3 linked regions of the Homo sapiens genome follow. Changing the gene in region 3 together with the main gene of any one other region gives a genetic interaction. Each region holds a gene or a part of one and is shown on either strand. Other genes may lie near its edges.

Region 1 (3,650 bases), about 12 Mb from region 3:
TCTCTCCTTTGTATTTTTACAAAAAGGAATAAACAGTTTAAAAACGTGAGTATATGCAAATGTCTTCCTTTTAACAGAAGGAATGTTAACTGTTTATAGTGTCTCTGACTTTGGGGAGAAGCGCTCAGTTGCAGTGGGAGAAGACTGGCTTTCACTCTGTACCTTTTATGGACATTTGATCTTCTGTAAACTTAGAAAGGTCTCACTCTGTCACCCAGGCTGGAGTGCAGTGGCATGATCTTGGCTCGCTGCAGCCTTGACCTCCTGGGCTCAAGCGATCCTCCTGCCTCAGCCTCCCAAGTAGCTGAGACCACAGGCACAGGCACCTGCCACCAGGCCCAGCTAATTTTTTTGTAGAGACAGCGTCTCAGTATGTTGCCCAGGCTGGTCTCAAGCTCCTGGGCTCAAGCAATCCTTCCACCTTGGCCTCCCAAAGTGTTGGGATTACAGACATGGGCCACTGCACCAGCCCATATTTATTTATTTTTTAGTGTCAATGCGGTTATGTGATTAGGAAGTTATACCCCATTTTTGGTTTTCTTCTTTATGCCTCTATTAGAACTTCCACACCCTCTAGGGCATCCACACAAACAGGGCTCCCTGGGAAGGGGGAGGCTGAGCTGGCCATCCAGCATGAGGTCCTAGGGCTTGGTTACCTGGTGATAATGGCCAGGTGGGGCGGGTTCATGCAGGCCCCCATGAAGAGCACCACGTTCTCATGCCGCGTCTGCCGGTAGTTCATCACCTCTTTCTTGAAGAGCTTCAGGTGGTCCTGGTTGTGGCCGTCCATCTCCAGCAGGCGAATGGCCACCTCGCCATGCCAGCGGCCGCGGTGCACCCGGCCCCAGCGGCCCTGCCCGATGGGCTCGCCCAGCTCTACCTGCTCGAAGGGGATGTCCCACTCCTGCAGGTACACGCTGGTCTGGCTGGCCTTGCGAGAGATGGGGCCCCGCCAGGGCCGGCGAGAGCTCGGCAAGTCGTCCACCTCGTCCTCATCGTCTTCTGCCTCTGACTTGCCAGCCTCTGGCTCCTCAGCCTGAAAGGAGAGCAGGAAGAACAGGGATGGGCAGCAGATCTGGGCTCTGCGACGTCTCTTCCTTCTCCTGGAGCCCTAGCCAGGTAACAGGGGAGAGAGGCATCCTGCCAGGGGACCCAGGTTGTAGTTGCAGCTCTGCACTGGCCTGCTGTGCAGCTCACTTAGCATCAGTGGACCTCAATGTCCTCATCCACAATATGTGGCGGCTGGCCCCGGTGACCTGAGGCCCTTCATCATGCTAATACTCCAATACCTACCTGTGAGCAACATCTAATTGTCCAGGAAAGAGCAAGAGCATCCCTGGCATAGAAGAATTTCACTGCATCCATCCTTCTGGAACTCTTGTTTAAACACAGAGTTTCTGACTCTCCCCTGGGCAGGAGTAAATCAGTCTGTTAACATTCTCCAAGCCATAATGCAATGGAGGGATCCAGCCTTGGCTGACACTTTTGTTCAAGGGTCAAGGCAGTGGTTCTTGACCCTGGCTACAATCACCTGGGGAGTGTGGGGAAGACAGAGCTTGGACAAGCTTGCTCCATTGCATTCCTCATCGTTCTTCCCTGACATGCACCTCTGCAATGGGTGCCTGGGACAGCCCTTGCCAAAGTCCAGAACCCACTCACCCTCAAGCCCCCTGCGCATTCTGAGATGGGGAAGGGAAAAAAGAGGGGGGGCCATCTGTGGACACGTGTGTGTCACCCTCACCTCCGCTTCGTGAGCTTCCAACACATCTGCTTTCGGCTGGTCATCGAGCCTAAGAGTAAACAAGGTTTGTCAAGGAGACCTTGAGGAACACCGCTCTGCTCTCAGCTAGCGGGGACTCCCGGGAGAGATCTGAGACAAAGGTACTTACTCTGACTCACACCTGGCTAGGGGAAAGGCCGCGTGGATAGCATGGCAATAGGCAGGAGGCTGAGGGCCAGACCTGCCCCTTGTGCAGCCTCAGCCTTCCCTAGGCTAACTTGAGGGTGGTGGGGGCTGAGAGGTGGGCAGTGATCCCCAAAGCCCCTTTTCAGATGTGACACTGCTACACAGGGTCTCAGAGCACACCCACAGGACTCGGAATCTGACGGCCTCAACTTGGAAAACCAGCTCTATCGCTTCCTAGCTGTGTGACCTTATGTAATTTCTTAACCTCTCTGGGCTGGCTGTATGTTAAGAATGACACCTACTTTGATACCTACCACCGCGCTGAGGGTGAGATGCGGGAATGTGAGTCAAGTGCTCAGCATGGCCTGGTAGAGAAAGGGCTCTGCACAGGAGCTATTCTTAGGCTTCTCTAACTCCAAATGCCCTCTATCCAACCCGCCTGGGTCCCAAGACTGCTCCAGTTTCACATGCGGCCCCACCCAATGTTGACCGCACTGATAGGAGGCAAATAAAACCCTCTGTGGAGTTCACTTGCCCAGAGGGTGAATGAGCCCAGGGAGTTCTGCATCTGGCTGGCTGGAGATGGAAAGGTGGAGTGGGAGGTGGCCAGGGATATGGATCCAGCCTTAATAATTCCCCAAAGAAGCGAAGGGGACACCACCTAGGGATGCCTACCGGGTACCGTCGGCAGCTTCAGGGAGCGGGGCTGCGTGTGCAAAGGCTGAAATGTCTGGAGGAAACAAAAACCAAACACAAAGCATGAGATTGCTTTCCTCTCCCCAAAGAGACACCGTGCTTGAAACCCAGCACCCCCAGAGAGGCTGATTTTCCCCTGAGTGGACTGCCACATGTTCCCCAGACACTCCCACAAGGACCAGCCTGGGCCCTTCCATAAATTTTGCAAGGACGCAGCCTCCACAGCACCTGCTTCTGCATACACAGCTGTGTCTCAGGAAGGGGCTCTGGGCAGGGGCTCTGGGCAGGGGATCTGGGCAGGTGGGGAGGGTGAGACTTCTCATTACCACCACGCCCCTGTGGCCAAACTGCCCCCCACCAAGCAAGTGGTAAAAGCAAACTGGGCTCTCATTTACTGGACAGGCTGGCTAAAGCTGCTGTTTGGAAGCAGGGGCTGCTTGCAACAACCCTTGAAACTAATGAGATTCCCTCACTTTGGCCAGCAAGGCCGGTGGCAGGACATGCAGGTGGCTCATTAGCGACACCTGGTGGCTGATACAGTTGCTGGGAATTTCCAGCACAGAGGCCCCGAGCCCTCGGCTTCAGGTATGGGTCACTGGTGGAGCAGCTCTCAGGGGAGAGGAAGAAACGCCACATATCAGGGGCCCAAGAGTGGGCAGCTGGGGCTGATCCCTGAGCCTGGGGTGTTCCCAGTTTTGGCGCTAAAAGTCCCACGTCCAGGAAGACCAGAACCAAAGGTTACTCCAGCATGGAACCAAAGTGCTACAGGGAGATTGGTGGCCCCAGGGCCGCCATGGACGGCTCACTCCCCGCTCTTTTCTGCAAAAAGAGAGACAGGAAGTGGCAGTGGCTGAAGCTATCAAAGGCCTCTCTCCTGCCTGTGTGGACAAAGACTCTCCCCGCTCAGCCAAAAGACCTCCCTCGACCTTCTTCTAGGGCTTTCTTCTGCCTTTGAAGGTCATCTGAACCACAGGCTGTCAACATCTCTGGGACCTCACAGACTTGGAGAATCTGATAGAGGCCGTGGGCCTTCTTATCAGGGAAATGC
Region 2 (4,101 bases), on a different chromosome or scaffold from region 3:
CTGCTGGCAAGCTAAAAATACATGTGAAGGATAGAACCACTATCAGCTTCTAGAATGGTTAGAGTAATGTCCTTTGAAAGGAGTTTTTCTTTTGCTAAAGAAAAATTTCTAACATAAAAGGAAGTAAATTATGAACTTTCTGATGCTTTCTAAATTACCAGGAAAAGATCAGATTCTGGTATATGATGAGCATTAGACTAAAATGATGGATTAGGGTCTGATAAAGTTGGTGCTACTCCCACGACATTTGGAGGAGGTATGGAGCAGCATGGATTACTTGGCTGGGTTATGAGCCTTGGGATTTGCAGAGATTATATGTAGATAGACTCATCACAGTTCTACTCATATGTAAGATGACAAAGAGAAGTTAATCAGACTCCTCATAAAATCAGGCCTCTAGTGCTGCACTCTACCAATAAGCATTGAGTCATGCTGTAAGAGCAATAGACTAAATGGAACACTAATGGCCTAAAAAGAGAATGTGCCCTCTAAGCTGCTAACTTATTGCGTAGGCACAACTCAGGCGGTGGGGAGAAAGCCCATTACAAATGAAGAGCTCTTGCTTCCCTAGAGGGGAATAAGCTAAAGAGATTCCATCAGATGCGTCTGCTCAGCTGCAACGAGATCTGTTTTATAAACATCAGATCCAGCCTAATAATGTAGCAAAATTGCTCTTGGAAATGAATTTTGCCAAGAGCAATACTTTGACAGTGATGAGGGATAGATAGTGCACATAAAGTAGAATTAATGTGCAGACCCATATATACAGTAGGGTCACCCTTTGTAATATTGGCTTACTAGAAAGAATAATAGTAGGAGACTCTAGTCATTATTGCTGGGGAGAAAGGCCAAAGATAATAGGGGATATTTAGGTTAGAAAAATATTGCCATTGAGGTTTGAGAAGAGAGAAGTGCCAATAAATACAAAAGTCTTCTTTAAAGGGGGAACACCAAAAATATAATTCTGAAATAGTTGTCTCACTGTTATTTACTTTAAATTGATATTAATGTGTTTTCCTTTTTCCTAAATAGGTGAATTTTTCCTGAAAAATCTAGTGGCTAAAAGAAAAACAAAAGACCTCTAAAACTTCAACAAGACCTTCAAGATCACAGAAATTTTTAAAATTTGATTCCAGTTAATAACAGAGGTGGTGCCAGAATGCCTGGACTGCAGTGGATGTGCCCCACCTCTTTGCTTAAAAAAAAAAATGTCAATAGCCAGGCATAGTGGCTCACGCCTGTAATCCCAGCACTTTAGGAGGCCAAGGCGGGTGGATCACCTGAGGTCAGGAGTTCGAGACCAGCCTGGCCAACATGGTGAAATCCTGTCTCCACTAAAAACACAAAAATTAGTCAGGCGTGGTAGTGGGTGCCTGTAATCCCAGCTACTCGGGAGGCTAAGGCAGGAGAATCACTTGAACCTGGGAGGGGGAGGTTGCAGTGAGCCAAGATCGCTCCATTGCCCTCCAGCCTGGGTGACAAGAGCAAAACTCCATCTCAAATAAATAAAAAGGAAAAAAAAGTCAATAAACTGTACAAATTTAATTACAGTAATTCATTTGGCTTTTAGTGTATCTTCTTTGTCCCAATTAAACAGTTGCTTGCTGTGATGTAATCTTAAAATATCTTTGTAAGAATTTTCTTTTAACATAATTTTAAAATGCATTAAAAACATGGCATGGTGGCTCACACCTATAATCCCAACATTTTGGGAGGCCAGGGCGGGTGGATCACTTGAACCCAGGAGTTCGAGACCAGCCTGGGCAACATGATGAGACCTTATCTCTACAAAAAATTAGCCAGACGTGGTGGCACGCACCCGTAGTCCCAGCTACTCAGGCTGAGGTGAGAGGATCACTTGAACCTGGAAAGCAGAGGTTGCAATGAGCTGAGGTGGTGCCACTGCTCTCCAGCCTGGGCGCTACAACTGCTCTCCAGACTCTGTCTTGAAAAAAAAACCCAAAAACTTCCAGAAGATTTTCCAATCCACTGTTAACATCATTACATTTCATTTATGAAAAATAAAAACTTCATTTATGTTACTGTGATGAAACAGTCAACATAGATTGAAACTCATCAGTTTAGCATTTCATTCAACTTTAGCATTCATTCAACGTAGATTGAAACTCATCAGATTAGCATTTGTCCTTGTAATATTGGAATAATTTAGAAAGGCTTAAGAGTGAATGTTGGCCAGATGTGGTGGCTCATGCCTGTAATTCCAGCACTCTGAGAGGCCGAGGTGGGCAGATCACCTGAGGTCGGGAGTTTGAGAACAGCCTGGCCAACCTGGTGAAACTCCATTGCTACTAAAAATAAAAAAATTAGCTAGGTGTGTTGGCAGGTGCCTGTAATCCCAGCTACTTGGGAGGCTGAGGCACGAGAATTACTTGAGCCTGTGAAGCAGAGATTGCAGTGAGGCGATATCGTGCCACTGCACTCCAGCCCGGGCAACAGAGTGAGACTGTCTCAAAAAAAAAGTAAATGTTGATTTTTTACATTGGTGTGACTACTTCAGAACCTGCAAAATAGTTTTATGCTGATTACATTTAGTCCCTCTGAAAACACCAAGGCCATAATGCTGCCTAAGACATGGAAATAGAACCTAGAAATATTAACCCTTATTTGTATAGTAGCTTGCTAAATCCACATGCCCTATTCCTTTCATTTCTCACATTGGTTGTATTATATGATGGTAAAGGCCTGAGAAAGGAATTTCCTTCCAAAATACTAATAACTCAGATTCATCTTTTGACTGAATCCTGCCTTTCTACTTTTTCTGCATATCTAAAAGGACACTTTTAGGTGGCCATGTTGTAAAATATGTAAAGTGGATAGCCAATTCTGTTTTGAATTCTTATAACGAGCCAGTATTATAAAAGTAATGCACATCCTTGCCAGGTGTGGTGGCTCACGCCTGTAATCCCACCACCTTGGGAGGCTGAGGCGGGTGAATCAGTTGAGCTCAGGAGTTTGAGACTAGCCTGGGCAACACAGTCAGACCCCCATCTCTACCAAAAATACAAAAAATTAGCTGGGTGTGGTGGCACATGCTTGTAATCTCAGCTATTTGGGAGGCTGAGGCAGGAGAATCACTTGAACCTGACAGGCAGAGGTTGCAGTGAGCTGAGATCACATCACTGTACTCCAGCCTGGGTGACAGAGACCGTGTCTCAAAAAAAATTTTTTTAAGTAATGCATGGGCCGGGCATGGTGGCTTAATGCCTGTAATTCCAACGTTTTGGGAGGCCGAGGCAGGTGGATCACCTGAGGTCAGGAGTTTGAGACCAGCCTGAACAACATGGTGAAACACTGTCTCTACTAAAAATTAAAAAATTAGCCAAGTGTGGTGGCGCATGTCTGTAATCCCAGCTACTCAGGAGGCTGAGACAGGAGAATCCTTGAACCTGGGAGGCAGAGGTTGCAGTGAGCTGAGATCACACCATTGCACTCCAGCCTGGACAACGAGTGAAACTCCTCAAAAAAAAAAAAAAAAAAAAGTAATGTATGTCTTTATAGATGCTAGTAAATTTTGGGATGCAAATTTAACCCTACCAACTTTCTTTTGTTTTGAGACAGTCTCACTCTGTCAGGCTAGAGTGCAGTGGCGCGATCTCAACTCACTGCAACCTCTGCCTCCTGGGTTCAAGTGATCCTCCTGCGTCAGCCTCCCAAGTAGCTGGGATTACAGGCGCACACCATCACGCCCAGCTAATTTTTGTATTTTTAGTAGAGATGGGGTTTTGCCGTGTTGGCCAGGCTGGTCTCAAACTCTAGGCCTCAAACGATCTGACCGCCTTGGCCTCCCAAAATGTTGGGATTTGTGAGCCACCACCGGGCCTAACCCTACCAACTTAAAATAGAAACATCTCAAGCTACCTTAACTTATTTTACAGGAAAAAAATGGATTACTTTTCAGGCTAATTTTGTGACATTTCTAGATATTATCTAATAGTTAGGCCCTTTGCACAGTGTAGGCCAATGGCAGGTAAACATTTGTTAGCAGGAGACTCATTTGGTGAAATAAAATTCTCAGCCGGCGCGGTGGCTCACGCCTATAATCTCAACACTTTGGGAGGCCGTTGCGGGCGGATCACCTGA
Region 3 (3,650 bases):
TAACAACAACAAAAATATCACCTTTATCACCTTTAAAAAATGTCTACATTGGCCGGGCACGGTGGCTCACGCCTGTAATCCCAGCACTTTGGGAGGCCGAGGTGGGCGGATCATGAGGTCAGGAGATCGAGACCATCCTGGCTAACATGGTGAAACCCCGTCTCTACTAAAAATACAAAAAAATGAGCCGCGTGTGGTGGTGGGCACCTGTAGTCCCAGCTACTCGGGAGGCTGAGGCAGGAGAATGGCTTGAACCTGGGAGGTGGAGCTTGCAGTGAGCCAAGATCACGCCACTGCACTCCAGCCTGGGTGACAGAGCAAGATTCCATCTCAAAAAAAAAAAAAAAAAAAAGTCTGCATTAGGCTGGTGTGGTGGCTCACGTGTGTAATCCCAGCACTTTGGGAGGTCAAGGTGGGAGGACTGTTTGAGCCCAGGAGTTCCAGCCCAGGCAACAAACATAATGAGACCCTATCTCTACAAAACAAATGAACGAAAAATAGCTGGGACTACAGGTGTAGTCCAAGCTACTCAGGAGGGTAAGGTGGGAGGATCACTTGAGTGCAGGAGTTTGAGGCTGCAGTGAACTATGATCACACCACTGCACTCCAGTCTAGGTGACAGAGCGAGACCCTGTCTAAAAAAAAAAATACAAAAAACATTAGCCTGCTATATTCTTCCCTTTAATTTTATTGAAAAAAACAAAACAAAAACAAACCCACCCAAATGCCAGCCCAATCCTGGGCTTTCCCCATATTTTCTATTATAGGTTGTATTTTATAACTATTTACATGCTATATACCTTACTAAACTCTGAATTCTTTGAAGGCGGGGACCTATTTTTTATCTCTGAATCCTAAAGTTTAATGTTAAAAGTAATCTGTTGTATAACAGGCTCAATAAATGTTTGCTGAATAAATTTAATCTCATCTGAGCTATGAATGGAAGAGCCATCCCCAAAATGGTATGCTTTTATATGAAGAGCTAATAAAAAATATGCAAAGTAAGATCTAAAAATTAGGTGAAATAAAACTTCTTTATATGTATAGCCTATGACAAAATATATGGTAAACCTGACTGAGTAAAGAGAAACTTACTTGGACATAAGAAACATAAACTCATTCAGAATGACTAGAAAGTGTTAGAAACTGGAGGATGAGAATACCTATCACACCTGGGCACTCAAGAGCACATGTACAGCTGTACCTGATCAGTTCTAGCTGAGCCAGTTCCAGATTGGCTTGAAAAATAGGCTTCTTTGTGAATAGTTCCCCAAGAATACATCTAGAAAAGGTAAAATTGAGAGGTCAGAAGAGAAATTCTTAGAGCCTATTTAAAGTGTCTCAAAAAATTTTTACATTATTGATATGTCGGATTGCAACCAAGATAAATAGCCCCAAATTTCAGTGTCTGAGTTTCCAAAGAGAAAATATTTCTTGCAGTGAAACAGACAGTATAAAGAATTTAAATTTGCCAGCAGATCAAACTTTTGCCACCTATTAAGGACACTCTATGATCAGAGAAAGGGAGTCAAGAGTCTTTTTCTATCATGCCATTGTAATTAAGGAAATAACTAAAGACAATTTTACAAGGTTGCTCAAAATTAAAGAACAATACTAACAAAAAATAAATAAACAAGGATGCTCTCTGCAGTTAGTTTCTATAAAGTTTGAATTCATTTTTGTCATTAATCTGCTCTGTAGAAGATGCACTATACTATAGCCTTCTTGGCACTGTATTTCAAATAAAATAATTTACTGTCATCAGCTAGGATCAGTTGGACTTTTTTTATTTTTATTTTTTGAGATAGAGTCTCACTCTGTCACCCAGGCTGGAGTGCAGTGGTGCTATCTCCACTCACTGCAACCTTTGCCTCCCAGGTTCAAGTGATTCTCTGCCTCAGCCTTCCAAGTAGCTGGGACTACAGGCATGCACCACCACACCCGGCTAATTTTTTTGTATTTTTAATAGAATCTAGTGAATCTAACATGAATAAATCTCAAATCATTTATGCTGATTAAAAGAGTGGGGGGAGTATATACTATATAATTCCATTTGTGTAAAATTCTAGAAATAGAAATTATAGTGACAGAATGCAGAACAGTGGTTTGCCTGGGAATGGGAGGGTACGGGTAGAGGAAAGGGATTACAAAAGGGCACAAGGAAACTGTGGTGGGTGATCATTATCTTGGCTGTGTTGATGGTTTTACTGGTGGATATGTTATGTCAAAACATATCAAAATATATGCAGTTTATTTTATACTTCAATAAAATAGGTTTAAATATTGAATGAATTTGATAAGGCTATACTAAAGTTTTCTGTACTATTCCTGTAACTTTTCCATACATTGAAATTATTTCAAAATAAAATAAAGGCTGAGCATGGCAGCTCATGTCTGTGATCCCAGCACTTTGGGAGGCCTAGGCAGGAGGATCACTTGAAGCCAGGAGTTCAAGACCAGCCTGGCAACATAGGAAGACCACATCTCAAAGATTACATGAATATCCCATACTTTTTGTTACGTGCCTGAAATTTTTCATTTTTTTAAAGTGGGGAAAGAAAAAAAAAGGTCGATGAATCTGTCTGACCTATGCTTTGAAATGAGACAAATACAAAACCAAATTTATACTTTTATTTTAAAATTCTTTAGTTTGACTTAATTTGAGAAAGCAAAACGAACCTAGCTTTTTAAGTAGCACTTTTCTGTTAGAATTTGGACCTTTAAACGAATTATGTTAAAACAACTTCAAAGACAAATTCTTACTTCCTATATTCTCTCAAACCCTATTCAGAGATGGAAAAGTGAAAATAAAATTTAGGCCAGGCTCAGTGGCTGATGCCTGTAATCCTGGCACTTGGTGAGGCCGAGGTGGGAAGATTGCTTGAGCCCAGGAGTTTGAGACCAGGCTGGGCAACGTAGTGAGATCCCAACTCTATAAAAAGAAAAAAAAAGTAAAATTTAATTCTGTTTTCAACATTAACTGCCACATCAAGTTCTAAGTGCAATGTTGTCGTCACAGCGGGTAAAATCAGAGACATTTAAAAAAGAAAAGAAGAAAAAAAAACCACTAGGTTTTCAGACTCCTGACATAATTTGCTGTACTAGTCTTTCTAGTTTCTCCTCGATTCTAATTTGCACACTGAACTGTCATACCAATTCTCTATAAAAAATCCCATAAAAATATCTTCAGAGAGACTACCATGAATCACCAAAGTAGTAAGTTCACATCAAAACTCAAACAAAATCTTAATTCAATGAGCCACTGGGCTTTGAAGAATGTCTAACTTTATGTAGTTTTAATTTCCAATTGTGTTTTTCTGTTTTCTTTTCTTTTGGTTTCCAGTCCTTTGGTGGGAAGACATCTTCATTATGTAATCAACACTTTGCTACTGCTCTGAGGTGGCAGGCTGCACAGACTGAAATAATAGTACCGAACAGAGCTATGAACTTTCCTCGTGCATCTTAATGGGGCGTTAACTTTAGAGCCTAGTTGTGACAATTTAAATGCTAATACTGTTAAAGCAAATTGTCCAGAACAAAAACACACCCAGCTTGAGTCAGTAAAATTTAACTAAAGCTTTATTTTATTTGGGTAGGCTACCACAGAAATTATGCTCTTTCTCCATCATTCTGTTGAATTTTAAAATAAA

The links.
Region 1: changes in CDK12 (region 3) and KSR1 together harm fitness more than expected from each alone (negative genetic interaction), as found in Homo sapiens cells (one large-scale study listed by BioGRID).
Region 2: changes in CDK12 (region 3) and LIAS together harm fitness less than expected from each alone (positive genetic interaction), as found in Homo sapiens cells (one large-scale study listed by BioGRID).

Annotation. Positions count from the first base shown.
Region 1 is NC_000017.11:27,602,820-27,606,469, reverse strand, and holds part of KSR1 (kinase suppressor of Ras 1), read right to left. Parts: intron 2,637-3,650; coding exon 2,582-2,636; intron 1,791-2,581; coding exon 1,742-1,790; intron 1,037-1,741; coding exon 657-1,036; intron 1-656.
Region 2 is NC_000004.12:39,476,031-39,480,131, forward strand, and holds the end of LIAS (lipoyl synthase, mitochondrial isoform 1 precursor), read left to right. Parts: intron 1-1,032; coding exon 1,033-1,085; 3' UTR 1,086-3,476; downstream 3,477-4,101. UniProt on the Homo sapiens protein: Catalyzes the radical-mediated insertion of two sulfur atoms into the C-6 and C-8 positions of the octanoyl moiety bound to the lipoyl domains of lipoate-dependent enzymes, thereby converting the octanoylated domains into lipoylated derivatives.
Region 3 is NC_000017.11:39,513,363-39,517,012, reverse strand, and holds part of CDK12 (cyclin-dependent kinase 12), read right to left. Parts: intron 1,283-3,650; coding exon 1,205-1,282; intron 1-1,204. UniProt on the Homo sapiens protein: Cyclin-dependent kinase that phosphorylates the C-terminal domain (CTD) of the large subunit of RNA polymerase II (POLR2A), thereby acting as a key regulator of transcription elongation.